7 linked regions of the Homo sapiens genome follow. The protein of the gene in region 5 interacts with the protein of the main gene of each other region in a pairwise test. Each region holds a gene or a part of one and is shown on either strand. Other genes may lie near its edges.

Evidence for each region.
Region 1: the proteins of ELOVL4 (region 5) and SERP2 interact in binary tests that used the Homo sapiens proteins (3 or more experiments, as listed by UniProt).
Region 2: the proteins of ELOVL4 (region 5) and BTN2A2 interact in binary tests that used the Homo sapiens proteins (3 or more experiments, as listed by UniProt).
Region 3: the proteins of ELOVL4 (region 5) and HMOX1 interact in binary tests that used the Homo sapiens proteins (3 or more experiments, as listed by UniProt).
Region 4: the proteins of ELOVL4 (region 5) and PLN interact in binary tests that used the Homo sapiens proteins (3 or more experiments, as listed by UniProt).
Region 6: the proteins of ELOVL4 (region 5) and GOSR2 interact in binary tests that used the Homo sapiens proteins (3 or more experiments, as listed by UniProt).
Region 7: the proteins of ELOVL4 (region 5) and CMTM3 interact in binary tests that used the Homo sapiens proteins (3 or more experiments, as listed by UniProt).

Annotation. Positions count from the first base shown.
Region 1 is NC_000013.11:44,380,324-44,383,823, reverse strand, and holds part of SERP2 (stress-associated endoplasmic reticulum protein 2), read right to left. Parts: intron 1-3,500. UniProt on the Homo sapiens protein: Interacts with target proteins during their translocation into the lumen of the endoplasmic reticulum. Protects unfolded target proteins against degradation during ER stress. May facilitate glycosylation of target proteins after termination of ER stress.
Region 2 is NC_000006.12:26,389,608-26,393,107, reverse strand, and holds part of BTN2A2 (butyrophilin subfamily 2 member A2 isoform a precursor), read right to left. Parts: intron 3,104-3,500; coding exon 2,897-3,103; coding exon of another isoform or gene 2,838-2,896; exon of another isoform or gene 2,422-2,837; coding exon 2,401-2,421; exon of another isoform or gene 2,306-2,400; coding exon 2,279-2,305; exon of another isoform or gene 963-2,278; coding exon of another isoform or gene 813-962; exon of another isoform or gene 734-812; coding exon 141-733; 3' UTR 1-140. UniProt on the Homo sapiens protein: Inhibits the proliferation of CD4 and CD8 T-cells activated by anti-CD3 antibodies, T-cell metabolism and IL2 and IFNG secretion.
Region 3 is NC_000022.11:35,387,596-35,391,095, reverse strand, and holds part of HMOX1 (heme oxygenase 1), read right to left. Parts: intron 1,233-3,500; coding exon 1,133-1,232; intron 1-1,132.
Region 4 is NC_000006.12:118,558,296-118,562,216, reverse strand, and holds the end of PLN (phospholamban), read right to left. Parts: intron 3,393-3,921; 5' UTR 3,296-3,392; coding exon 3,137-3,295; 3' UTR 501-3,136; downstream 1-500. UniProt on the Homo sapiens protein: Reversibly inhibits the activity of ATP2A2/SERCA2 in cardiac sarcoplasmic reticulum by decreasing the apparent affinity of the ATPase for Ca(2+).
Region 5 is NC_000006.12:79,937,554-79,941,053, forward strand, and holds part of ELOVL4 (very long chain fatty acid elongase 4), read right to left. Parts: intron 1-3,500. UniProt on the Homo sapiens protein: Catalyzes the first and rate-limiting reaction of the four reactions that constitute the long-chain fatty acids elongation cycle.
Region 6 is NC_000017.11:46,926,160-46,929,659, reverse strand, and holds part of GOSR2 (Golgi SNAP receptor complex member 2), read right to left. Parts: intron 141-3,500; coding exon 76-140; intron 1-75. UniProt on the Homo sapiens protein: Involved in transport of proteins from the cis/medial-Golgi to the trans-Golgi network.
Region 7 is NC_000016.10:66,611,046-66,614,387, reverse strand, and holds the end of CMTM3 (CKLF-like MARVEL transmembrane domain-containing protein 3), read right to left. Parts: intron 1,780-3,342; coding exon 1,751-1,779; 3' UTR 501-1,750; downstream 1-500.

The sequences.
Region 1 (3,500 bases), on a different chromosome or scaffold from region 5:
ATCCCAGCACTTTGGGAGGCCAAGGTGGGCGGATCATGAGGTCAAGAGATCAAGACCATTCTGGCCAACATGGTGAAACCCCGTCACTACTAAAAAAAAAAAAAAAAAATTAGCTGGGCATGGTGGTGCGTGCTTGCAGTTCCAGCTACTCAGGAGGCTGAGGCAGGAGAATCGCTTGAACCTGGGAGGTGGAGGTTGCCGTGGGCCGAGATTGCGCCACTGCACTCCAGCCTGTCAATAGAACGAGACTCTGTCTCAAAAAAAAAAAAACAAAAAAAACGCAAACCTCCAGAGAGGTGGAGCTAACATACTCAATCCCTAGGAAACTGCTGGAGACCAGGAGAGTTCTAAAAGATGCTTGTTAGCAAATGTCCCAATTTACCCAAGAGGGAAAGATACAGGTCCTGCTGCATGGGCTGGTAAGCCAGGCAAAAGTTTAGGCCATATAATAGTTTTTTAAACCCTCCAAAAAGGAAGAGATGGGTTTTGAGAGTTGGCATGGGTTTGAGAAAAATAAGCCACGCCAAATGACTCTACTGGCTTTTTCCCTTATAGGCTGCCTAAGGGGGCAGACTGGAGAAGGCCACAGTTACTGTGTATCTTGAAGCCTATATATATCTTTATCTACTTAGACCCTTGACAATACAGGTGGCATGGTCACGGGGCTCAGGGATGCCTGAGAGTAGGCTTTGGCCATTCTGAGCACCTTATATTCTTGAGCCCAGCACATTCTCTGAAGCCACCATGCCACCGCCACATAGTGTTCCCATGCAGAATCACCTTCCTCACACCCTTTGTCTGGCTGTTTGTTCTTCAAGACTCCGCTCAAACAGCACCTCCCCTTGGAAACTTTCTCTTCTGCTGAGTATGATTTAGAAGTTCCTTATCCATGCCAGCCAAGCACCCTGTAAACTCTGCTGTCACTATCGCAGTGCGCTTTCCCTGGGCTGCAACTGACAGCTTCCTTATCTGCCTCTCCCAATGCCTGCAAGTACCCAAACAGGATTGTATTTCCAAAGCCCGGCACAGTGCCAGGCACAGAGGGGACCCTCAAGACATGATGATTGCTTGAATGAGTTTTGCTTAGAGGCTCAAAGTCAACCTGAAAGAGGTTGTCTCTGATTGTGTTCTGTGGGTTTCTCCAAGTCTAGACTTTTATCAGTGACTTGGAAGAATAATATATTTTCAGGGACCATAACACTGGGAAAAAAGGGTAAGTAGATCAGAGGCTTAAAGTTCAAGGTCTGACAATCTACAGACTGGTCATACAGCCTGAAAACATAGCTAACTTTTTTGTACAGGTTTATTTTCTTGATTTTCCTGTGGTATGATAAAGGCATAGTTTTGTTTGTTTTTATTTTGTTCTTTTTTTTTTTTTTTTTTTTTTGAGACGGAGTCTCGCTCTGTCGCCCAGGCTGGAGTGCAGTGGCACAATCTCGGCTCACTGCAAGCTCCACCTCCCTGGTTCACGCCATTCTCCTGCCTCAGCCTCCTAAGTAGCTGGGACTACAGGCACCTGCCACCAGGTCCGGCTAATTTTTTTGTATTTTTAGTAGAGACGGGGCTTCATCGTGTTAGCCAGGATGGTCTTATCTCCTGACCTCATGATCCGCCCGCCTCGGCCTCCCAAATGCTGGGATTACAGGCGTGAGCCACCGCGCCCAGCCTAAAATTTTAATAGAAGTAATCGTTCTTCTTTGAGAATAAAAAAAAAAGTCATAAAGTTTTATATTAGGTCTCAAAAAAGGTCAACTAGATATCTACAGTATGAGGAATATCTGGCTTTATCCATCCATCCATCCATCCATCCATCCATCCATCCATCCATCCATCCTAAGCACTAACTATGTGCTAAATACTAAACTAGGATCTACAAATTTAATGAAAAATAAACACTGTCTCCCCTGAGCTTATATCCTACTGGAGGGAAATGAACCTAAGTAAGTAAACTAAATAACTGCAACTGCTGATGAGGGTCATGAGTAAAATAAAATAATATGTGATGGAGACAGGAGAGACTTGGGATAAAGGGGTATGTAGATGTGTTTCCGGGGTTGCAGGAAGTTTATCTGAGGAAGAGCTGGGTGGCATCTGGCTGGCCATCAGCTAGACGTGAGTCAAGGATGTGCTGCAACTGTTAAAAAGTAACTGCAAGCCTGGGTCACATTAATAGAGGCAGAGTGGTGAGCAAAATCAAGGGCAGTGACAATCCTACTGCCTCTGTGGTGGTCACACTGCTTCTAGACCACCTTCTGCAGTTGCAAATGCTATACTTTTTTTTTGAGACGCAGTCTCGCTCAGTTGCCCAGGAAGGAGTACAGTGGCACGATCTCGGCTCACTGCAAGCTCCACCTCTGCAGTTCAAGTGATTCTCCTGCCTCAGCCTCCTGAGTAGCTGGGACTACAGGCGCGTGCCACCATGTCCAGCTCATTTTTTGTATTTTTAGTAGAGACAGGGTTTCACCATGTTGGCCAGGATGGTCTCGAACTCCAGACCTTGTGATCCTCCCCACCTCGGCCTCCCAAAGTGCTGGGATTACAGGCGTGAGCCACTGCGCCTGGCTTTTTTTTTTTTTTTTTTTTTTGAGACGGAGTTTCACTCTTGTTGCCCAGGCTGGAGTGCAATGGCGCGATCTCTGGCTCATGGCAACCTCTGCCTTCTGGGTTCAAGTGATTCTCCTGCCTCAGTCTCCCAAGTAGCTGGGATTACAGGCATGCGCTGCCAAATGCTACCCTTTAAGAAAGTCATTGAGCAGATCCAGAAGAGGAGTCTAGAAACCACATCTTATGAGGCAAGGTCGAGAGATTTAGGGAAGCTTAGTTTGCAGAAGGAGCCACCAGGCAGTCATCTTTAAAATATCTGATGATTCAAGGTGCTTAGAGGAGAACGAGTCCATTCTGTGTTACCCTAGGAGTTCAAATCTGAACAACTGAGAAGACAGCATAGTGTAATTCAAAACAGGAGAGACATTTCTAATAGAATTCCAGCAGACATGGAATAGGCTTTTTGAAGAAGTATTCAAATAGGGATTGGGTAAACAGCTGTTTAAAAGATGTCCTTAAAGATACTTCTTTGGGAATAGAGTAGAACTGTCTTTCTTTGAGTGTAAGATTTTCTCATCTTGGAATGCCAAATCATCTTTAAAATATTTGAGCCACAAGCAACAATAATGCCAAGTACTTTGGATCCTTCCTTCCTCCTAAGAGTTTTTGCTTCTTTGGAAGAGTGGTCTCTTGAAGATAAAAGGAACTGATCCATCTTAAATTTTTTTTTTAATTTTCATGATTTTAGGTTTGAATGCATGATTCATCTTTAGTCATGGGCTTCTCTTGTCATTGGGGCAGAGGCTGTCTTGCTGGGAGGCCTAAGCCTGAGCAGGAAGATGTGGACCTTCTGCCTCCCTGCCCTCAGTAACAGTGAGATGCTGGAGGGTGGGAATCCCTCAAGGCATGCTGTGTAGTTAGAAGAAGTGACCTCCACTCACAAGGATTTCTGAGAC
Region 2 (3,500 bases), about 54 Mb from region 5:
GGGTGTGAAAAAGGCAGCTGGAAGATGTTCTCTTACGTGACCAGAGGGGAGGAGGGCGTGTCTTTCATTAGGGGGGTTGTGCGGTGGCTGCTGAGATGGCCAGGGCTTATCTGCATGGCTGTGAGTCCAAGGAATTGATTCTATAGGCTCTGGTGGGTCCCCACTCTGTGAAGTTTCAGGCCCTCTTCAGGCACCATGACCCCACTGGCTCCTGTGAGTGCAGGGCAGATGAAGATGGGGCTGTCATCAGACCCTAACCTGAAGAAGGGCCTCACAGGCACAGTAAAGGCTGAACGGGGACATGTGTAGATGTGCGATCTGTCCCTCATGTTGTAGAAGGAGACATCTCCAGCTTCATAGTCCAGGAAGACGCCCACCCGGCAAAGGGACTCCTTCAAAGGGAGAATCCTCTCAGGGGAGGACAGGGCCCGGTATTGGTTTCCAAACATCTCCAGGGTCCAGAAGCCATTCTGAGGAATCAGCAGGACCTCCCCTTTCCTCTCAACACTGTGTCTGCAGACCCCCACAGTCCACACCATCACGTTTTCCACCTCCACCTCCCAGTAATGTTTCCCTGAGGCGAAGCTCTCCCATCCCAGGACACAAGGCTGACTGTCGAATCTCTCTGGGTTGTCAGGCACTCTCTGCCTGTAGGGGCCCCGCCTCACACTTCTCCGGTCCTCTGACAGGAAGAGCTCGGGATGAGCGGTGTCTGGATCCAGGACCACATCAGCTGCAGAGGAAGTCTCAGGTTTATGCCTGGGGTCTCAGGAACCCTGGGGATTGTGTGGTTCCTGGTCCCCAGAGAAGTCTCAGAAAGCTGAAGGGGGTTCCCCATGTAGTGGCCGTTTCCATGAAGGTCCCCTGATCCCAGGCAGCTCATACCCTGAGAATTACGGAAGCTGCACTTCTATCTCTCCAGAGACAGAAGCAGTGCCCCCAGGTTGAGAAGAATTGTGGCTCTATGAAATCCAGAGAGTTTAGGAAATGAGCCAAAATTAATGGTTCCCAGTTTTTCTCAGCATTCTAAGATCTGATCCCTTTTCTATTCAAGATATATGATCTCTGGGACTTTCTTTAGTTAGAAACTTTCCAACTTGGCTTAAACCATCACAGAAGCTTTATCTCCTATTGTTCCCCCACATACCTCTCAATGGATCAATTAAGTGAGTCTATCATTACACACTGTCCTAGGTGGTGAAGGACCTCTTCGTTGGTCCTATAGGTTGTTTTAATAGGTGACAACTGATTTAAGTGGCTGACAAGGGCACACTTCAAAGGATAAAGAAGGAGAATAAATGTGTGCAAAAGAAAACCTGGTGCCTGAGGGATGTGTGGGCAAAGTTAGGGAAGAAATACTTCAATCCAGTTTTGCTTTAACAATATGAGTCTGACATCTACCAGGATTACTTCTCCCATACAGGAAAAGCCCCAGGAGCTGAGCATTCTGCAAACCTCTACCTTCTGCATGTATTCTTACTTATTCAGTCTACCTTTCTATTGCATTAAAATGATTTTCTCTTTTCCACAAGTTGATATGTCTGATTGTGACAAGTTGTGATTGTGTCCCAAAATGACAGTGGCAATTTTGAAACTCGCCAAAGAGGAAAGGTCCATGGGCCCTGGTATCTGGTAAAGTTTGGATTCTTTGGTGCTGACAGGCAGAGGTGCCGAATCACAAGATGAGAACTCACTGGAAGTGGGCGATTGGTTTCTCTGTGCTCTCCCACTCACCCTCCCACTCACCCAAACCCCTTCCCCTGGCAGACTACATGCAGAATATCAGTGCTCTCTTAGAGGCAGAAAGGTATTTCTGGCCACCTATTTGTACACCATTGCATCAGGCTTACTGGGGACCCTTATGGCCTTTTCCTCACATAGGTCTTCAACTGTGCACAGTCTATACCATTCCCAGGATATGAATTGCTAAGACAGCATTATCTTATTTCAAATTGATCCAGAATCAAAGAGCAATGACTTCTGAAATGTAACTCTTAGGAGGCTACTATGCATGGGAAACCTTTGATAATCATGCATTAAATTATTCCAAAAGAGAAAGGGTCCTGGGGATGTAAACTGCAGGGTTCATTAAGAGCTGCTGGGGTTCCCTGACAGAAGAGCCATGATGCATCATTGCTGGGACACCGTTGATGAACTGACCCCAGTTCCCTATGGTCCCTGTGTAGCCCTGGGCCCCTTGCTCATCTCCTCTAAGGAGTCCTGTTAGCTGGCTAGTGGGGAGAAAGCTGAGATCTGAGAGAACATCAGAGGCACTCACCAGCATGTAAGAATGTTCTTCTCCATCCTGCAAGGGACAGACAGAGGTGAATGTCACGAGACACTGCTAAGTAAGCAGAACACAAATTGTACACGGAGTAGTTCAGGAAAGGCTAAACTTACGCAATTCTTCTTGAAGTTGCTCTGAAAACAAAATACAGAAACAAAATCATGTCTTCAACAGAAGAACTAAGAGAAATTGAGCTTGTATTAAACAACGTAGGAACCATCCTTTCTATGAACACCAACATCACCCTTCGTTTATGCCTAAGGAACAGTCAGAAACCAGCAATGATGTATGATCAGATGGCTGGGTAGTATCAGTACATTGTTAGACTTTTGTCTGAACTTTCGTTCAGCCATGTAGTGCTGCATATAGCCAGGTGAATGAATGTAATGTGTGCAGCATGGAAGAAAGAAAGCTCTGAATGATTACTTCTTATGACATGAGAGTTCCAAGCCCTTGTGGCTGCTGCTGTGCATTTCCTCTCTCTCTTCCCTAAGCCGGTACCTGTGAGAGCTGTGGCCTTTCTATGACAGTCAATTGTCCTCCTACTCATTTAACTTTTCTTTTTGAATTTCTTTCTATTTTTCCACACTTTCTTTACAAATTCCTTACGTGCAATTTCTTTTTCCTCTTGTTCAACTTTCTTTTCCCCTGACAGAATCTTTTTTTCCCTTTGAAGTTTCTTGATGCAACAGATGCTGACAGCCATGAAGATGATGAAAACAGCCAGGATGACAGTCATGGACACCATCCAGGGAGATGCGGTCAGGATGACAGCTAGGGCCACCATCCAGGGAGATGCGCTGGGCATAAAGGATTCTGAAAAGGCAGCCAGAAAAGTCCATTTAGTTTGAAATAGAACATCTGGATGAGAGTGCCCCTAAGAGCACATCTGAAGAGCTCCTCAGCCACCTGTTCTGTTGGCTTCTCCCTCAGAAACCTTAGATGGAGAAAGCGATGCTGGCTCAACACTGGCTGACACCTCAGTGACTGCCAGGGCCGGGCCCAGAAGGGGGCAAAGCAGAAACATCTGGAGTCACCATGGAAAGGACCAGAGTGCATAAAACTAACCAGCCATGCTGAGTCAGCACAGCCATCACCCTGCCTCAAACCACCATCACTCACGCCTGGAATACTAGAGTGCCCTCCTTCTTGTTCTGCTCTATTCTGTAATCTACTCTCAGCAGAGCAGCCCAAGTGAGATCATGTTAATTAT
Region 3 (3,500 bases), on a different chromosome or scaffold from region 5:
CACAAGTGAGAAAGCCACAAGCCAGGTAGGTTAGGGTGGCACAGGAGGGGAGGCCTAATATAACCTGCCAGGAGGTAGCTAAGCCTTACCTCTTTATTGCTACCCATCCCAAAGCCACACTCCCTCCCTCAGTGTTTTAGGCTTAGTGAGGGTACATTTTGTGGAGCACTTTGGTCTTTTTGGAAGTTTCCAAGATGTTTCAGTACAGCCAGCCTTGATCGTTCTTAGGCACATGAGGGAGGGGCTCACACACAACAAGACTCAGAAGGGACATCTTCCTGTGGTGGGTTCATAGCTGGATACAGGTCCCCAACTCCCTGGCCCACATCAGGGGACCAAAGGCCTAAAAAGGAGTCTAAATTAAGGAGGCAGGAGTTTCCCATGATTTCTGAGGGGTTCTTGTGCACTTCTGAGCCAATAAGCTAGAAGTAGCTGAACCTCACTGGATTTTACGGGTGGGGAAACTGAGGTAGGGAGAAGTCTCATGGCTTGCCCAGAGCCACACGCTGAAGGTTGACCCCAGGTCCTTTTGCCTGCACTCCACTTCTCATACAAAAACACGCAGGTGGCCGGGCACAGTGACTCACGCCTGTAATCTCAGCACTTTGGGAGGCCAAGGTGGGCGGATCACCTGAGGTCAGGAGTTCGAGACCAGCCTGGCCAACATGGTGAAACCCCATCTCTACTAAACATACAAAAAAAAAATTAGCCAGGCATGGTGGTGGGCGCCTGTAATCCCAGCTACTCGGGGGGCTGAGGCAGGATAATTGCTTGAACCCGGGAGGCAGAGGTTGCAGTGAGCTGAGATCGCGCCACTGCACTCCAGCCTGGGTGAGACTCCATCTCAAACAACAACAACAACAAACATTCAGGCTGGCATGGTGGCTCGCGCCTGTAACTGCAGCATGTGGGGAGGCAGAGGCAAGAGGATTGCTTGAAGTCAGGTGTTCAAGACTGGCCTGGGCAATATAGCGAGAACCTGTCCTTACAGGGGCAGTGGGGTGGGGCAGCAGGAAACAACACCCACCACCACCAAACATTCAGAAAACAGAGGAATAGAGATACTACAGTCAGACAGCCAAGTCCCTCCATGTGTAGCCCAGAGGAAGTGCCCCTTCCTGGATGCTCTCACCTTGCACTTTGTTGCTGGCCCGCTGGCGAAGCCCTGGTGCCCGTGAGGGGCTCTGGTCCTTGGTGTCATGGGTCAGCAGCTCCTGCAACTCCTCAAAGAGCTAAAAGACAAAAGACACACATGCCTATCTCAGTGAGAGATGCTACCAGGTCCCAGCTGAAGGTAGGACCTTAAGTTGTGTTAGGAAATACTTTGGAAATAACAAGATGGTAAGAAAAATATTGGCCGGACACGGTGGTGCGCCCCTGTAATCCCAGCACTTTGGGAGGCCAAGATGGGCACATCACGGGTCAGAAGTTTGAGACCAGCCTAGCCAACATAGTGAAACCCCATCTCTAGTAAAGATACAAAAAATTAGCCGGGCGTGGTGGTGCATGCCTGTAATCCCAGCTACTCGGGAGGCTGAGGCAGGAGAAATGCTTGAACCTGGGAAGCTGAGGTTGCAGTGAGCCAAGATCGCCCCATTGCACTCCAGCCCGGGTGACAGGGCGAGACTCTGCAAGAAAGAAAGAAAAGAAAGAAAGAAAGAAAGATAGAAAGAAAGAAAGAAAGAAAGAAAGAAAGAAAGGAAGGAAGGAAGGAAGGAAGGAAGGAAGGAAGGAAGGAAGGAAGGAAGGAAGGAGAAGAAAGAAAGAAAGAAAGAAGAAAGAAAGAAAGAAAGAAAGAAGAAAGAAGAGAGAGAGAGAGAGGAGAGAGAGAGAGAGAGAGAGAGAAAAGAAAGAAAAAGAAAGAAAGAAAGAAAGAAAGAGAGAAAGAAAGAAAGAAAGAAAGAAAATTCATATCCCTTTCATCCACCTTAAGAGATAAGATGTTCCAAGCCCAATTGGCTCCCCTGCCTGCTCTTGCCCTCCCAACCGATAACAATGATCCTGGATTTAGAGTTCACTGTGGCCGCCCATGTCCTTAGCCTGTGTCTCCATGCAAAAGGCTGCGTTGCTTGTTTTGAAATAATATTAAGTGGTATCCTAGTACATGCACTCTTCTGCCGCTGCTTTCTTCTCTTGAGTTTAGATTTGTGAAATTCAGCCTTGGTGAGGTGTGCTGAATGGTATTTGTTAGCCTTGCAGATGAGGAAACTGTAGCTCCTACAGGTTAAGTGCTTTGCCCAAGGACTGATCCAGAGGTCAGGCACTAAGAGCCGTTTTTTTTTGTTTGTTTTTTGTTTTTAATACGGAGTCTCACTCTGTCTCCCAGGCTGGAGTGCAGTGGCGCGATCTCTGCTCACTGCAAGCTCCGCCTCCCGGGTTCACGCCATTCTCCTGCCTCAGCCTCCTGAGTAGCTGGGACTACAGGTGCCCACCACCATGCCCAGCTAATTTTTTTTGTATTTTCTTTTTTTTAGTAGAGATGGGGTTTCACCGTGTTAGTCAGGATGGTCTCGATCTCCTGACTTCGTGATCCACCCGCCTCGGCCTCCCAAAGTGCTGGAATTACAGGCGTGACCCACCACGCCCGGCCAGCCAAGAGCCGTTTTTTTTTGTTTTTGTTTTTGTTTTTTTGGTTTTTGAGACAGAGTCTTGCTCTGTTGCCGTTGCCCAGGCTGGAGTGCAGTAGCATAATCATGGCTTACTGCAGCCTTGACCTCCTGGGCTCAAGCAATCCTCCCACCTCAGCCTCCCAAGTAGCTGGGACTACAGGTGCACGCTACTATGTCTGGCTAATTTTTTCATGTTTTTGTAGAGATGGGGTCTCACTGTGTTGCCAGGGCTGGTCTCAAACTCCTGGGCTCAAGCCATTTTCCTGCTTTGGCCTCCCAAAGTGTTGGTATTATAGGCACGAGCCTGAGAGCCAGTTCTGATTCCAAATCCCTTTTCTTTTAAAAACATTTTTTTCCTTTAAATTTTTTTTTATTTTTTATTTTTGATAGAGACAGGGTCTCACCATGTTGCTCAGGCTGGTCTGAAACTCCTGAGCTCAAGCAATCCGCCCACCTCGGCTTCCCAAAGTGCTGGGATTACAGGCGCGAGCCACTGCACCTGGCCCTTTTCTTTTGCCTACACTTCTCTGAAAGACACAGATTTTCTTCCTCCAAGACGGACTGGATTTTCTGAAGGGGGAGGGTGGAAGGGAAAGGCCTTGTTCCGTAACAGGGGCCAGGACCAGAATCTTCTGCAATCCACGGCTGGGAGTAGGGAGCCAGGAGGGCATGACCCCGAGCCCCAGGCCCCATGGCACCTCCAGGGGGTGGCAGAGAGAGAAGGCTCTATGACATCTGGTTAGAAGGAGCCCCTCACCCCTCCACCTCTGCCCAAGAATTCATCCTTCCAGGCTTTGCGCAAACCCCACCTTCCCCCTGGATTTGAGACACTTGTAGAAAGAGGTAAACCTCTCTGGCTAGGCTGAGAGTCCCTGGAAGGCAGAGGCCACC
Region 4 (3,921 bases), about 39 Mb from region 5:
GTACCCTGTTCTGGCTTTAATTTTTTAACTGTTTGAGATAATTTATATATTCAAAGATGTGAACACTATGACACTCCCTATATTAGGATATGACACATTCATTAGGTAGTTAAAGAGGACTTTTATATACCTGTTTTAATGAATAAAATTAGTAATGTGTTTCACTTTTTTCATCTGTCAAGTTTTCTATGTAATATTAGCATAAAATTTCTGGACATTTTGAAGTGTGCTGTTACTTAGCAGAAGAGCAGATCTTTTCTGAAAATTTATTATAGTCCTACTTTGCCAGAAGTCTCAAAAATAATCAAAAGATAAATAATCGCTATGTAGTAGCAATTTGTTATCTTATATACGTCTGCCCTCTTGTGTGTCTGGACTTGGGCGTCTTGATTTTGTTTTATTTGGGGAAAGTCACCAAAAAAACCCCTATAAAATTAAAACTATAATTAGAGCGTTTTATCGTTAGTATCAATTGTAAGTGTATTATAGAGCAGCCCCACTGAGTTTTCAAGAACATTCATTTTAATATAGTGATTCTGATTTGCATTAAACAAATATATATTCTTAACCAATTAAAATATAAAAGGCAACATTAAGCATTTTAAAATTGTTTTTAGTGCCCTGTAAATTAAGATAAGAACTTATTCTATAGTAGAACATATTTGAGCATTTAGTATATTAAATTTTAAAAATAAATTGTTTTCTTATATCTTATTCTTTACACTTTATGATGAAGAATAATTATTTAAAGAGTTTATTCTACTTTATAATTTGAGTTATAGTATTCTGTAATCCTCACAGAATAAGATTTTAATTTCTATCAAAGAATGAAGAACAAAAAAATTAGTTATTTCTGTTTACTGAGAAAAATATTGTAACAAACAGTGTAATCAAAGGAATATGACTAATCAGTTCAAATTTTCCACTTGTTTTTAAGACTAGGGATACTTTCTGTATTGGTAATTTACTAAAACCAGTGAGGTGAGTGTATCACCTGTTGTTTATAAGCTTTCTACTTGTTTTTAGGAATTTCCAGCTTGTAGATGAGGCGTCACTTAAGAAATCTCTGCCCTTCTGTTCTTCAGATATCCCTGAACCAAACACTTTCCACTCCCCATCTCTAGTATCTCTCATGGGTTCAGAAAATTTAATAGTGTCTCCTTCACTATTGAGTTAGCAACACTTGTGTAAGAAACCAAGGTCAATATTGATGTTACATATTCTTTTAGTAACCATGTTTTAGAAGATATGGTTAATTACACATCCTCTACTCTTTTAATAATAGTTATATTAGTAACATGTCTTCAACTGAAATTAAAATTGTTGGATTATGCAGTATAGGTGTAAACTATTTTAGACTTAATTTTAAACTTTAGTCAACTTAAATTACCAAAGTTTGGTGAATATATTTTCCAGCACTCAATTTTACTTCAGTTGTTTTATGAGTTATTGGAAGATGTTCTGAAATGGTCAGAGGAGAAATTGAAAATTTATTCATCAAGAAAATAATTATAAATAGCATAGCTGGATCTATAATTTAGCTCAGTAGAGTGGACTGCAAAATAGATGCTTACCATTTGGTTGATAGAGGAAGAAAAATAGCTATATCCTATTACAGTTGACCCTTGAACAACAAGGGCTTGAATTGCAAGGGTCCACTTATACATGAATATTCTTTCCCCCACTCCCCACACCCCTAAGACAAGACTGCAAGACCAACGCCTTCTCTTCCTCCCCATCTTTCTCCTCCTCTGCCTACTCAATGTGAAGACAATGAGAATGAAGACTTTTATGTTGACCCACTTCCATTTAATGAATAGTAAATATATTTTCTCTTTCTTATGATTTTCTAAATAACATTTTCTCTAGCTTACTTTATTGTAGGAATATAGTGTATAATACATATAACACGCAAAATATGTGTTAATTTACTGTTTATGTTATCAGTAAGGTTTATGGTCAATAGTAGGCTATTAGGTAGTTAAGATTTTGCGGACCCACGAATTGTCAGCTCCCCTAACCCCCATGTTCAAGGGTCAGCTGTAGATGTAATAGATGGGCCAACAAGTTCATTTCAAAATATAATCTAATAATTAGTTAATATTTGGAGAGAGAATTCATATATTTTTAAAAAATACTTGAGATAATATATTTTTCTGTCACTGGAAATCTTTTATTTTCCTTGCCTGCATTGGATGTTAGGCTGGAATGGAAGACAACCTGCAAAATCATTCTGAAGTCTTAAGGTTTCATGATTCCAAAGATATAGTATGGTAAGCTAGGTAACTCTAGCTCAGATAATTCACTACAGTGCCTTAAATGAAGATTAGATTCTGTTGTTAGTATATTAGTGATATGACTAATCTCACTGTCACATATTAACCACCAGTTCTCATCTGTTGATCATATGTCTTAGAACAGATTTATGATTTACCTACATGTACTAGAATTCTGTGATTCTTTGAAAAAATTACTTAAAAGGAATTTTATTATGTAAGAGTATGGCCTTACTTTTCCATACTTGATTCTCATCAACTTTAAAAGATGTTAATGTGGCATAGAAAAAATACAATTTCTGTTTTAGAATGTAGATTCTGATAGTTACTACAAATAGTTCTTTATAATAAGATAACAGATGTGAGGAGTCAGTGGACTATTTTGAATAATGACACTTCATTTGTGTTATTACTTTGATACTTGGTGAAGACCTGAAAAATACTTAGTATTAAAGAAGCTTTTACATTGTAATATAAATTATATTCACCTCAAAAGAGTAAAAATAATGCTTTATATATGAAGTGAACTTGTTGGCAGTGCAGTTTTAAAACTAAACTCTTCATCTTCAGAAAAGATTTGGGATAGAAATTTGTGAGCCATGTTGAGGAAATCAACAGTTGCATTTTATACACTTATTTTGAAGTTAATTTTTGAAAATAAAGCCCTTTTCATGTTTACAAGATCCAACAGATGAATACATATGGTAACAATAAGTTTTAGTCTTAATCTTGACCTTTTCACAAAGAAACTCTTCTACTCAGGAAGTGGTCTGTTATACAATATTGTTTTCCTGTCTGCATGGGATGACAGATTTTAAGCTGATGTGGCAAGCTGCAGATCTAGAGGTTGTAGCAGAACTTCAGAGAAGCATCACGATGATACAGATCAGCAAGAGACATATTAAGATGAGACAGAAATTGATAAATAGATTCTGTAGCTTTTGACGTGCTTGTTGAGGCATTTCAATGGTTGAGGCTCTTCTTATAGCTGAGCGAGTGAGGTATTGGACTTTCTCCATGATACCAGCAGGACAGGAAGTCTGAAGTTTTAAGTGGTCGAGAGAAAGATAAAAAGCTGGCAGCCAAATATGAGATAACTGTCTTCTTTTAGGTAGCCTGGAATGTAAAAATAATAAATGGATTAGAATCATCTATGTAACCTATCCTCAGAACAAAAAATACAATTTTACACTAATTCATCTTCCTCAGCACTATTGTTATTTATAACATCATGTTTCTATAGTCTCTCTCCCTCTCTCTCTCTCTCTCTCTCTCTCTCTGTGTGTGTGTGTGTGTGTGTGTGTGTGTGTGTGTATGTGCACGTGTTTCTATGTGTCTGTCTCTCTTTCTCTCCTTTTTTGATGGGGCACACCATGACCGTCTCATTTGTGTTAGGAGTAGTAACTTTAGTCCTTGCCTTTTTCTCCCAAATTTACTACAAGTATTGGAGTAATCCTCAGTGTCTTCCATAAGTTCCTGGAAACCATGACTTTACGCAAAACAACATATAACAAAACCATTTTTACCCTAGGCTGATTGATGTAAACAAGAGTTAAGTTCCTATAGCATATTTCTGGTCACAAAAACATCACCAAACTTCTCAATAAAGACCCCAAACACTTCTAATATTAAACGTTGAGAGAAA
Region 5 (3,500 bases):
CCAATGGAATATGAGGACTAAATGTGATAATACATATAAAACACTGGACACAGTGCCTGACACTTAGTAAGCATCCAATAAATGTTCACTATTATTACTGGGCAATAAAATGGTATTTATTGAATAAATAAGTAGGCTATGTTGCATTATAAAAAGGTCACTGTTGGGAAGGAGAAAGATCTTGATCCTATTCCAACTCTGTTACTTTCTAGCTATGTAGCTTTGAGTCTATTTCTTCATCTATAGATGGTTAAATAATATCTAACTTATAGAGATGATCTGAAAATTAAATATAAGGTGTATCAAATACAGTACTACAGCATCTTAAAATGGTCCTATACTAAATGCTCAATAAATGGTAGTGAGTTTCATCATGTGCAGACGATATCTGGTTTCAAATTCCTGACCTCAATGATCCACCCGCCTCGGCCTCCCAAAGTGCTGGGATTACAGGCGTGAGCCACCATGCCCAAGTGCAGGTGATGTCCAAATTCATGACTTCAGAAAATGGCCTATTCATAAAAGCCAGTTCATAAGGGAAAAGGAGACAATTTCAAGGGAGAAAATATATCTCGAGAGAGAGAGCTGAAGAATGTTGCCTCGTTTCCTGGAAGCCAAGATCAGAATACAAGTAGTTTCCTTCTCTCCTTGTTTCCAATTTTGCTGGGCTTCTCAGAAAAAGTAGTCATAAAACTTAATCTGGGAGTTCCAAGTTCAACCATCCACCCAATGCTGCCAATGAACTCAAAGCTTTAAGAAAATTGAAATGGTGTTTCCCTTTAGCAAAAAAGATGGAAGATACCATTAGAGTGTGTGAGTGTGTGAGTTAATGGGAACTTTAGCCAAAATCTTCCCTTGACTCTAACAGTTCTATAAGTTGAATAGCCACTGGGTAAAATACGGTTAGTCCTGAATGAATTTCATTATCCTTTCACTAACAAGTTTCTAGCTCTTGTATTATGCAATTTGGCAAATACTTTCATAATTCACTTTGAATACACTTTTTTTAAACAATCCTACACCGTCATATGGAAGTTAACCATCTTCTCAGGCTAAATATCGCATTTTGTATTCTACATATATTCACATATTTGTGTATGTATATAGTATATGAATAAATATCACTTTGTAGTTTAATCTCATACACCAGCCTTTATAGCACCTTTGAATATTTAGATGTCTTTCTTTAGATGATCTTTGGTAATATTATGACTTTGTTCAGATTTAGTATTCTAAACAGTGATACTCTGTAGATAACAATAAAAGAAAAGGTAAAATAAAAGAGAAACACAGATTACAGGCCTGATTATTTCTTTCTTGCTTGGCTAGTGTGACGGGAAGACAAGAGCACTGGGCTAGGGACAAAACAACCCATGCACATTCATTTGCACTATAGTGACCACCTACAAAAGTTACGTAACTTCTGTAAATCTCAAAGACTTCTAAATATATGGAAAAAATGCCTTCAAGGCCTATCTCCCAGAGTTATTGTGAAGTTGTTTGTAAAACCATAAAGCAAAATACAAAGCTAAAGTTTTCTTTCTTGTTATTTGCTACTTTCTAGCCACTCGGATTTTTTTTAAGCCAACAGCTATATAGTCTCTTTATAAAGTCATTTTACTTTAAATTGAAAAAATAAAGAAGAATTGACTGTTTTACCATTGAGCACTAAAGAGATCATTTCTACAGGTGCTAATGTATTAATTTTATAATATATGAAATTCTTGCATTGCGGTAAAAAGAAAAGCACATAACATAAAATATACCATCTTAATCATTTTTAAGTGTACAGTCCAGTATCATTAAGCATATCCACATTGTTGTGACTCTCTGGAACTTTTCTATCTTGAAAAACTGAAACTCTATACCTATTAAACAAGTCATCAGTTCTCCTTCTCCCCAGGCCCTAGCAAACATCTTTCTACTTTCTGTTTCTATTAATTTGACTACTTTATTTATTTATTTATTTATTTATTTATTTATTTATTGGGCCAGGATCTTACTCTGTCACCCAGGCTGGAGTGCAGTGGCACAATTATGGTTCACTGAAGCCTTCACCTCCCAGGTTCAAGTGATCCTTCTCCCTCAGCCTTCTCAATAGCTGAGACTAGAGGCATATGGCACCAGGCCTGGCTAATTTTTAATATTTTTTTGTTGCTCATGTTGGTCTTGAACTCCTGGGCTCAAGTGATCCTTGAGCCTCCACCTCCCAAAGTGCTAGCATTATAGGCATGAGCCACTGGGCCCAGCCCGAATTTGACTACAGTAGAGGGTCCATATAAGTGGAACCATAATGCCACATACATAATTATCTTTTTGTGACTAGACTATTTCACTTAGTAACAAGGTTCATCTATGTTGTAGCACATGTCAGAATTTCTTTCCTTTTTAAGACTGAATAATATTCCATTGTATGTATATACCACGTTGCGTTTATCCATTTATCCAACACTGGACATCTGGGTCGTTTCCACCTCTTAACTACTGTGAATAATGCTGCTATGTACGTGTGTGAAAAAATATATAAAATTAGTTAAAAACACACATCTGTGCTCAAGTTTTTGTTTGATAAGTGAATAAAAATGAAAACAGAAAAGCTTGTTTCTTGGAATTCTGCAGTTCAAAATCACAAATGCTTTTATGTGATTATACCTGACAGTGAGTAACTGATTTCCTCAGTGGACTAATGCATTTGTCTTTCAAATTCCAAAAATTTTACTCTAATACAATATAATCATAAATAAAACATCATTCTAAGGTATTTGTTTACAAATGGTAATATTTCATGAAGAAAAATATATGGCAAAAGATTTTAAAAATTTGTATTTTGATTAGTTAAGGAACATACTTATACCAAAACCATTTAGTTTCTTTTGTTTTCTCTTCTGTAAGACCTACACATTTTTATCAATTTTACAAAAATCTTAAGCCATACTTCCAAACTTAAGTAAAAAATGCTCATATATAAAGTGTTTATAATAGAAAATCATTTGTAATGATGTATGTTAAAATTTCACATTTTCTATTGGAAAAATATGAAGACTGAGTTTAGACTGATATCTAGGCTGCTGTTTTAGGAGATGTTATAAGGATTCAATAAACTAAGCCTTAAAGGTTATGTAGTTCAACCCTCTCACAGCACAGGTAGAAATAAGAGACCCAAAGAGTCATGAATAACTTGCCTAAAACGACATAATATGCCATCCTCAAAAGCTGAGTATCACAAAATAAATGTAATATATAATTGAGATAATTTTATTCTTTAATATTATTGCTACTGTTTTCGATAAAATAGTTGGCTCTTGGTTATTCAAGGAATCCAGATAATTAAACAGGTATAGTGTTACAGCAACAAAAGCAATGTTATTTCAAAACAGACGCTTAAATATCTGTATACTTTTGTTGCTCTATTCCTCTACCTATTTCTTATAAAGCAAATTTTAAAAAGTAAAAAGAACTAAATAAGAATCTGTTATTTGTACTATTTAGGCAGTGTTGAT
Region 6 (3,500 bases), on a different chromosome or scaffold from region 5:
TGCAGTCAGGAAGCCCAGCCCATTAGCACCCTGTCATCAGAGAAAGGACTCTGGTCTCCACAGTTAATTACTCACTGTGCACAGACTGCTTGTCTGCCGTCTCCAGGCGTCCCATGCAAGACTGGATCTCGTGGACCTGCCTATCAAAGGAAGAGGGAGGAAATGAGTGAGACAGGAGTAATCAACAGCGCTTCAGTCAGGAAAGACAATTTTTCTGATGCCAACATGTAACTGATTTAAATCGACAGCATCACTGAACTGTAAAATTTGTATGTGGCACTTTAGGTCCCACGTTTTGGCATGGTTTCTAATATCTTAACTACTAACAATAACACTGATAGGCAGATTATGGGTGCTTACCATATCCAAGATACTCTGCCAAATCAATAACCCTATGAGGAAAGTACCATTATCATCCTCATTTTATAAAAACTGAAGCCCAGAAAGGTTATGTAACTTGTTCAAGATCACACAGCAAGTGATAAACCTCAAACTGAACCCGGCCAATCCTACTTTCTGTTCTACGACCTAATGTGCTAAGCACTGGCCTGTACCAGGAAGAGTCAAAGGGCGAGGGAGATATAATCCTTGTCCTTGAGAAACAACATAATGAGGAATGACAGGCTAAACAGACATGAACAAGCCCTGGGAAGATTCACGAGAAAAGCAATACACATAAGTATAAACAAACAGAAAGAGGGGCAGCTCTGCACAGTGGTGTCACAGGCAAGCAGACAGAGGGGTGGGGCTGAGAAAGAGAAACCAGGTAAGTTATGTGGATGGAAAGAGTTCTGAGCATCGCTGTGAAGAAGGGAGACATCATTTGGTGAAGGAAGATAGAAGAAAATGATATGCAAAAATTCATTCAAGACATGTGGATTACAAGTAGGGTGGGCTGCTTGAAAGGGAATCGGGTTGGGGGAGAGGATGCTGAAGTGACTCACTGGAGGAAACCATTCAGAGGAAGACCCTGAGACAGGGACCTTCTGTTTGGTAAACATCCTTCTCCGACAATATCAAGGAACGAAGGAACTGCCATCTCATTTGGAAATGCAACACTGTACCCTGGATCTGGGTAACACTCTCTGGAGGCTTCCCACGGTCTGGCCAAGGTCATCCTTAAGACCCCCTTCCTAATGGTCCTCCATGATCAGTCCTCGGGATACTGCTTATGCTGGCCCCACCATCCACTTCCCGGTGCTCACGGTGGAGATTTCCCCAAGTTAGGGCCCACATGAAGGGGGCCTGCTGGACTCTCACATCATCCCCAACGCTGGAGGAAAGGTCAGCAACCATTCTGCATCGTGAGCAATGCAAACCAGGACCCCAAATCTACCAATGCCAGCCAGGCACCCAACTTTGGCTTCAGCTTGTGCCCAGTCTTTTCCAGGGCTTCCCTATGGCCTCCAGATATGCCCTCGGGCACCAAAAGAAGCTGGGTGAGCTGTCAAATGACTCCCCAGGGTGCTCCTAGGCAAGACCTGTGGCCCTGAGAAGCAACTAGAAATCACTGCTAGAGTCCGAGACCAGGCCGTTGCTTCCGGAAAGTAAGTCTGGGATATTGTGGGATGATGCGGGGGTGTGGAGGTATGGGGGCTGATGTAGGAATGCAGCCTGAGGTAGCCGACACCTGAAGCAGGGCAACCAAGGGAACAGGTACAGGGGACCGGAGGGTAACGGGGACAGAAAGGAGAATTAGGACTCTAAGGAAGTCCTGACGCAGGCTGTGAGGTAAATTTTCAATGCTGATTTAACAGAAAAATCTGAAAGTTGGTAATATGATCAACACGAACAGTGACATAATAAAAAGGGGGGAGGTAAAGAATAGCCAAGACCACTCTGAAGAAGGAGGGGGAGGAATGACTTGTCCCACCTGCCATTATGACTTACAAAGCAGTAACAATGGAAACAATATGGCGGCAGTGCAGGTGCAGACAGACAAGGAAAGGCAAACCCTACAGCTGGCCCAAGAGGAAAGAAACAGCCTAGACACAGCCCCACGTTATTTGGGAGCTTTTGAAAGAAGGGACTACAATAAATGCCAACAGCTCCGGTTTGTTACCCGTACAGAAAAAGGCCACCTCAGGTAACACATAAAAATAAACTCAAGCTCACTTAAAACCCAAATGGAAAAAGCAGAGCAGCTTTCAAACTTTCTGAAGAAAATACAGGTGTGCATAAATGACCTCGGGTTACAGAAGATTTCTTAAATAAGACAAAATCCAAAAACTACCCACCCCCACAAAACCCACAAACCACAAAGAAAAAGATGGATACATCTGACAACATGAAAACAAAAAACTTCTGTACACCAAAGCCACAAAATAAACAAATGAATGGCACAGACTGGAGGGTATCTGCAGCAGATAACAAAGGATTGACGTGCAGAAAATATATAAAGAATTGTTACAAATCAATACAAAAAGTCAAACAAGGCATTTTTTTTAAATGAAAAAAGGGCAAATGACAGAAAAGAAAACCCAAATGGTCAATCAATATACAAAATGACACTCAACTAGGAAAACACAAATGAAAAGCAATGAGATCACATTTCTTCAGCCCATCAAACTGACAAATATTTTAAAGTTTGGGGACATATGCATTAATAAGGAAACAGGGAAACTAGAACTCTCATACCCAGCTGGTAGGATTATAAATTGGTAAAACACTTTAAATGCTTTCTGACAATAACTAGTAGAATAAAGCATGTGTCCATGCTATGACCCAGCAGTTTGAGGAATGTGTCCTAGAGAGGTTCTGGCATACCCTGAGGAGATGTACATGGCAGGACGTTCATCAAAGCACTTTTGTACAGGCCCATAATCCACTGACTTTTCCCATCAAATCTCTATTTGCTTTGAACCAATCAGAGACAATGTGGCCAATAATACAATTCCAGCGGCTACATTTCATGCTAAGAAAACATAAATATGAAACAACAAAGCAAGTATGAATGGCAAGGTGGGAACTACTAATATGCCAAGTGCAAAATCTGTCTCAAACTGAACTGGGAATTCTAACACAACATAACACACTGGAAGTCCATAAGAAACAGGTGATACACAAGCATGACTTGGGAGCGTGGACATGAGGAAAAAGAAGTCTTAGCCCTCTCTAGCATGGGGTCCATGGTGGGCTTGGGTGATAATATAACAAAGCAGAGAAATAGTAGCAAATAAGCCAGGGTCATTGTAGCCGTCTTTAAAAAAGGTTTACAGAAGATCTAGGAAGAATTTTTTAATGGAAGTGCTTTTTAAAAGTTCATGAAACTACTCACCGCCCCCCACCACCCCATAACATCCACTTTGCATCCAGGCTGCCTCTGACCATGATGAACATGAAAACGCTGTGTAACCTACACAGCATCATGTAAGTTTGTTGTTAACTTTACTTAAAAGTAGTGGCAACAATCTGGTCATTTTCATTTCACTCACTTTGCCTTTACATTTCGCTCATTAAAGGGCAAAATCTATAAAGGAAAAACATGGTCTTGAGATAAG
Region 7 (3,342 bases), on a different chromosome or scaffold from region 5:
GCCCCAGGGTTCCGGCTGCCTGAGGCTGCCGTGAGACACTATCCTGATGTGTAAGTGAGAGGGCCCTGGGCCAGTTACCCGACCTCTGTCTCAGTTTCTTTGTTTATAAAACAGGGTAGTGTGAGAACTAGAGCAGGGGTCCCCAACCCCTGGGCAGTGGACTGGTACCATGGGACCTGTTAGGAGCCAGGCTGCACAGCAGGAGGTGGGTGGCAAGCAACGGCATTACCGCCTGAGCTCTGCCTCCTGTCAGATTGGCAGTGGGATTAGGTTCTCATAGGAATGCGAATCCTATTGTAAACTGTGCATGCTACGGATCTAGGTTGTGTGCTCCTTATGAGAATCTAATGCCTGATGATCTGAGATAGAACAGTCTCATCCTGAAACCATCCCCTCCCACCCTCACCCCAACCCACCCGCCAACCCCCAGTCCATGGAAAAACTGTCTTCCACGAAACTGGTCCCTGGTGCCAAAAAGGTTAGGGAAATAAAGGATTAAATGGTAGTCAGATTTCACGTGTATTTTTGCTAAAACTGAAAGCTGTCAGGATCCACATTGGTGTTACCAGTTTGTACTGAAGCCTGATACAATACCCAACAGTATTGCTCTGGTTTTTTCAAGCACACACTCCAAGCAAGTGGTCAGTCTGGCTTAATTCATTATGGCTTTTTTTCAGGGTAAGAGATTCACACGCAAGAGAATAAGGCTACAAATGCTCCAAACATGGGTCCAGAACTCTGGCTCTTTTGTGAGGCCTAGAGTCACAGAAAATGCCATCTGTTAAGAAGCTGCTTTTGCATAAAAAAATATAAAAAGTTACAAAATTCCATCAAAGACAGATACACAGTATAAATCGTTAGGTGAACACAGAAGGCTGGTCTCATCTCCTGCAGTGGCCCATAGACCTGCCCTGAGGTCTGGAAGTTCACTGTCCTGAGGGTCCAGGAACTCCTGCCTGCTGGCTGGGCTCTAGGAAGAAGGAGGGTTTGGCTGGGCCCGCCCAGCTCCCCATGACACTGTCACTGTGATGCCACTGTTGTACCCTCTGTCTTCTGGACCAGTCAGTCTATGAGCTCTTCTTTGAAACAGTCTTAGACCCAGAATGGTCATCTCACCCCCAGAAGACATGGTTTCCAAGGGTGGGAGGTGTTAGTTATGGGTGCCGAGCCCCACTTCCTGGGCGACAAGGCAAAGGTCAATTTCTCCCTGCTTCAAGAATGAAGAGGGAACTGGTGCTCCTTGAACCAAAGATTCTTGGAAGGGTCATTGTCACCAAAGTGGCTGGTGTGGGCAGGAGCACCAAGTGCAGACAAACCCACCGGGGCCTGGCGGGGCAGCCCTGTCATGGTTTCTGTCTTTGTTCCTGTTAGTGAAACAGAAGACCCCCGACCCCCGCCACCTAGCAGCATGGAACACCTGCTGCCCAGATACAGACAAGGCTCTGCTTTGTCTCCTTGTGCTGGTTTTTGGCAGAGACGTTAAAGGGCTGAAGGCCTGTGGGACAGAAATGGGGAGAAGGAGTGGGATACCCAAGATGCCCTCATACGCAGCGTGGTCAACAGTGCTGAGCTGAGGGGCAAGCCTGGTAGGCTGGGCTCAGGCAGAACCTGAGGCTGTAGGGGGCCTGCTGTGTCCGCAGCCCCCTCTGCAACTCAGAAGTCCAGGCCTCCGCTCCAACGCCAGCGACCCCTGTGAGGCGCAGGGGTGGAGGCCTGTGTGGCTCAGGTTGCCAAGGCACCCGCCAGGCCTTCAGTCAGAGTCCGAGTCGGAATTCTCTTCTGAAAGGAAAGCAGAGAGGATGCTTGGCAGGAGGCTCAGGGCAGCGGTGCCTGGGAACGGTCTCTGGGGAAGCACAGCTGGGTTGCTGGCAGGAGCCTGGGTGCAGGCCTCCTGCAGCTGACTCTACCGTTCCCAGTGATCGCTGGCATCAGGGCAGGCCGCGGGCCTGAGGCCCTCCACAGGCAGCAGCCACTTTCTCTCTCTCTTTTTTTTTTGTTGTTGTTTTTTGTCTTTGAGACAGAGTCTTGCTCATCACCCAGGCTGGAGTGCAATGGCGGGATCTCGACTCACTGCAACTTCCTCCCTCCCGAGTAGCTGGGATTATAAGCGTGTGCCACCACACCTGGCTAATTTTTGTACTTTTAGTAGAGATGGGCTTTCACCAGGCTGGTCTTGAACTCCTGACCTCAGGTGATCTACCCACCTCAGCCTCCCAAAGTGCTGGGGTAACAGGCGTGAGCCACCGTGCCCGGCCGCAGAAGCCACTTGCACCTCCAGGGTGTGGGTGCGGGTGCAGGTGGGGGTGTTTCCACCCCAAGACTGAAGCCCAGGTGCCCCTTCCTCAGGCCCAGCCCCTCCGGAGTCTCCCTGGGCTTTTCTCAGCTGGGTGGGTCAGGGCTGTACCTCTGCATTCCAGCTCTACCCCCACCCCCAGGTTCAGCAGGACAAGGTGAGGACAGCTATTTTCTTGTCCCCCAAACTAAAATATACTGGAAAATCAGCAAGCCTCTTTTTAGCCATTTTATATCTTCAATCCCCCTCCCCCAATCCTTGTTTAATATTGTAATCAGAAACAATTTTATAATGGTAAGGGCCTGCCTATGAGGTGTACCTCGAGGGTTCCTGAAATCCCAGTTCTGTCTCGGAGCTCTGTAGAGCCTTCTGGAACCTCCACCCCAGAAGGAAAAGCACCAGAGTCACTAACCCCCAACCCCACCCCAGTGCTGGTTGCTACTTCCTGATGCTCATCCCCTCCCTGGCCAGCCTCTGTCTCTCAGAACCCCAGTCAGTCCCCATGAGCTGTCGCTGGCTCATGGCTGGGCTCAGGGCTGGGGTGTGGGCAGCCTAGTCCCTAAACCCCAGCTCTGTCCCTCACTCCGGTTCCTGGGCTGCACTCGTCAGATTTTGTGGGTTTTGCTATATTCAATTTTTTCCCCCCGAGATGGAGTCTCACTCTGTCGCCCAGGCTGGAGTGCGATGTCTTGATCTCAGGTCACTGCAACCTCTGCCTCCCATAGGTGATTCTCCTGCCTCAGCCTCCCAAGTAGCTGGGATTACAGGCGGGCACCACCATGCCTGGCTGATTTTTGTATTTTTAGTAGAGATGGGGTTTCACCGTGTTGGCCAGGCTGGTCTCAAACTCCTGACCTCAAGTGATCCACCCGTCTCGGCCTCCCAAAGTGTTGAGATTACAGGCGTGAGCCACTGTGCCTGGCTGCTATATTCAATTCTAACATATAAGTCAAGAATAATTTTACAGCAAAATAATTGTTACATATGTGAAACTCTCCAAATAGTAAAACAAAAAAAACAAAATAAAACCACCCAAGTTTCCACTGACG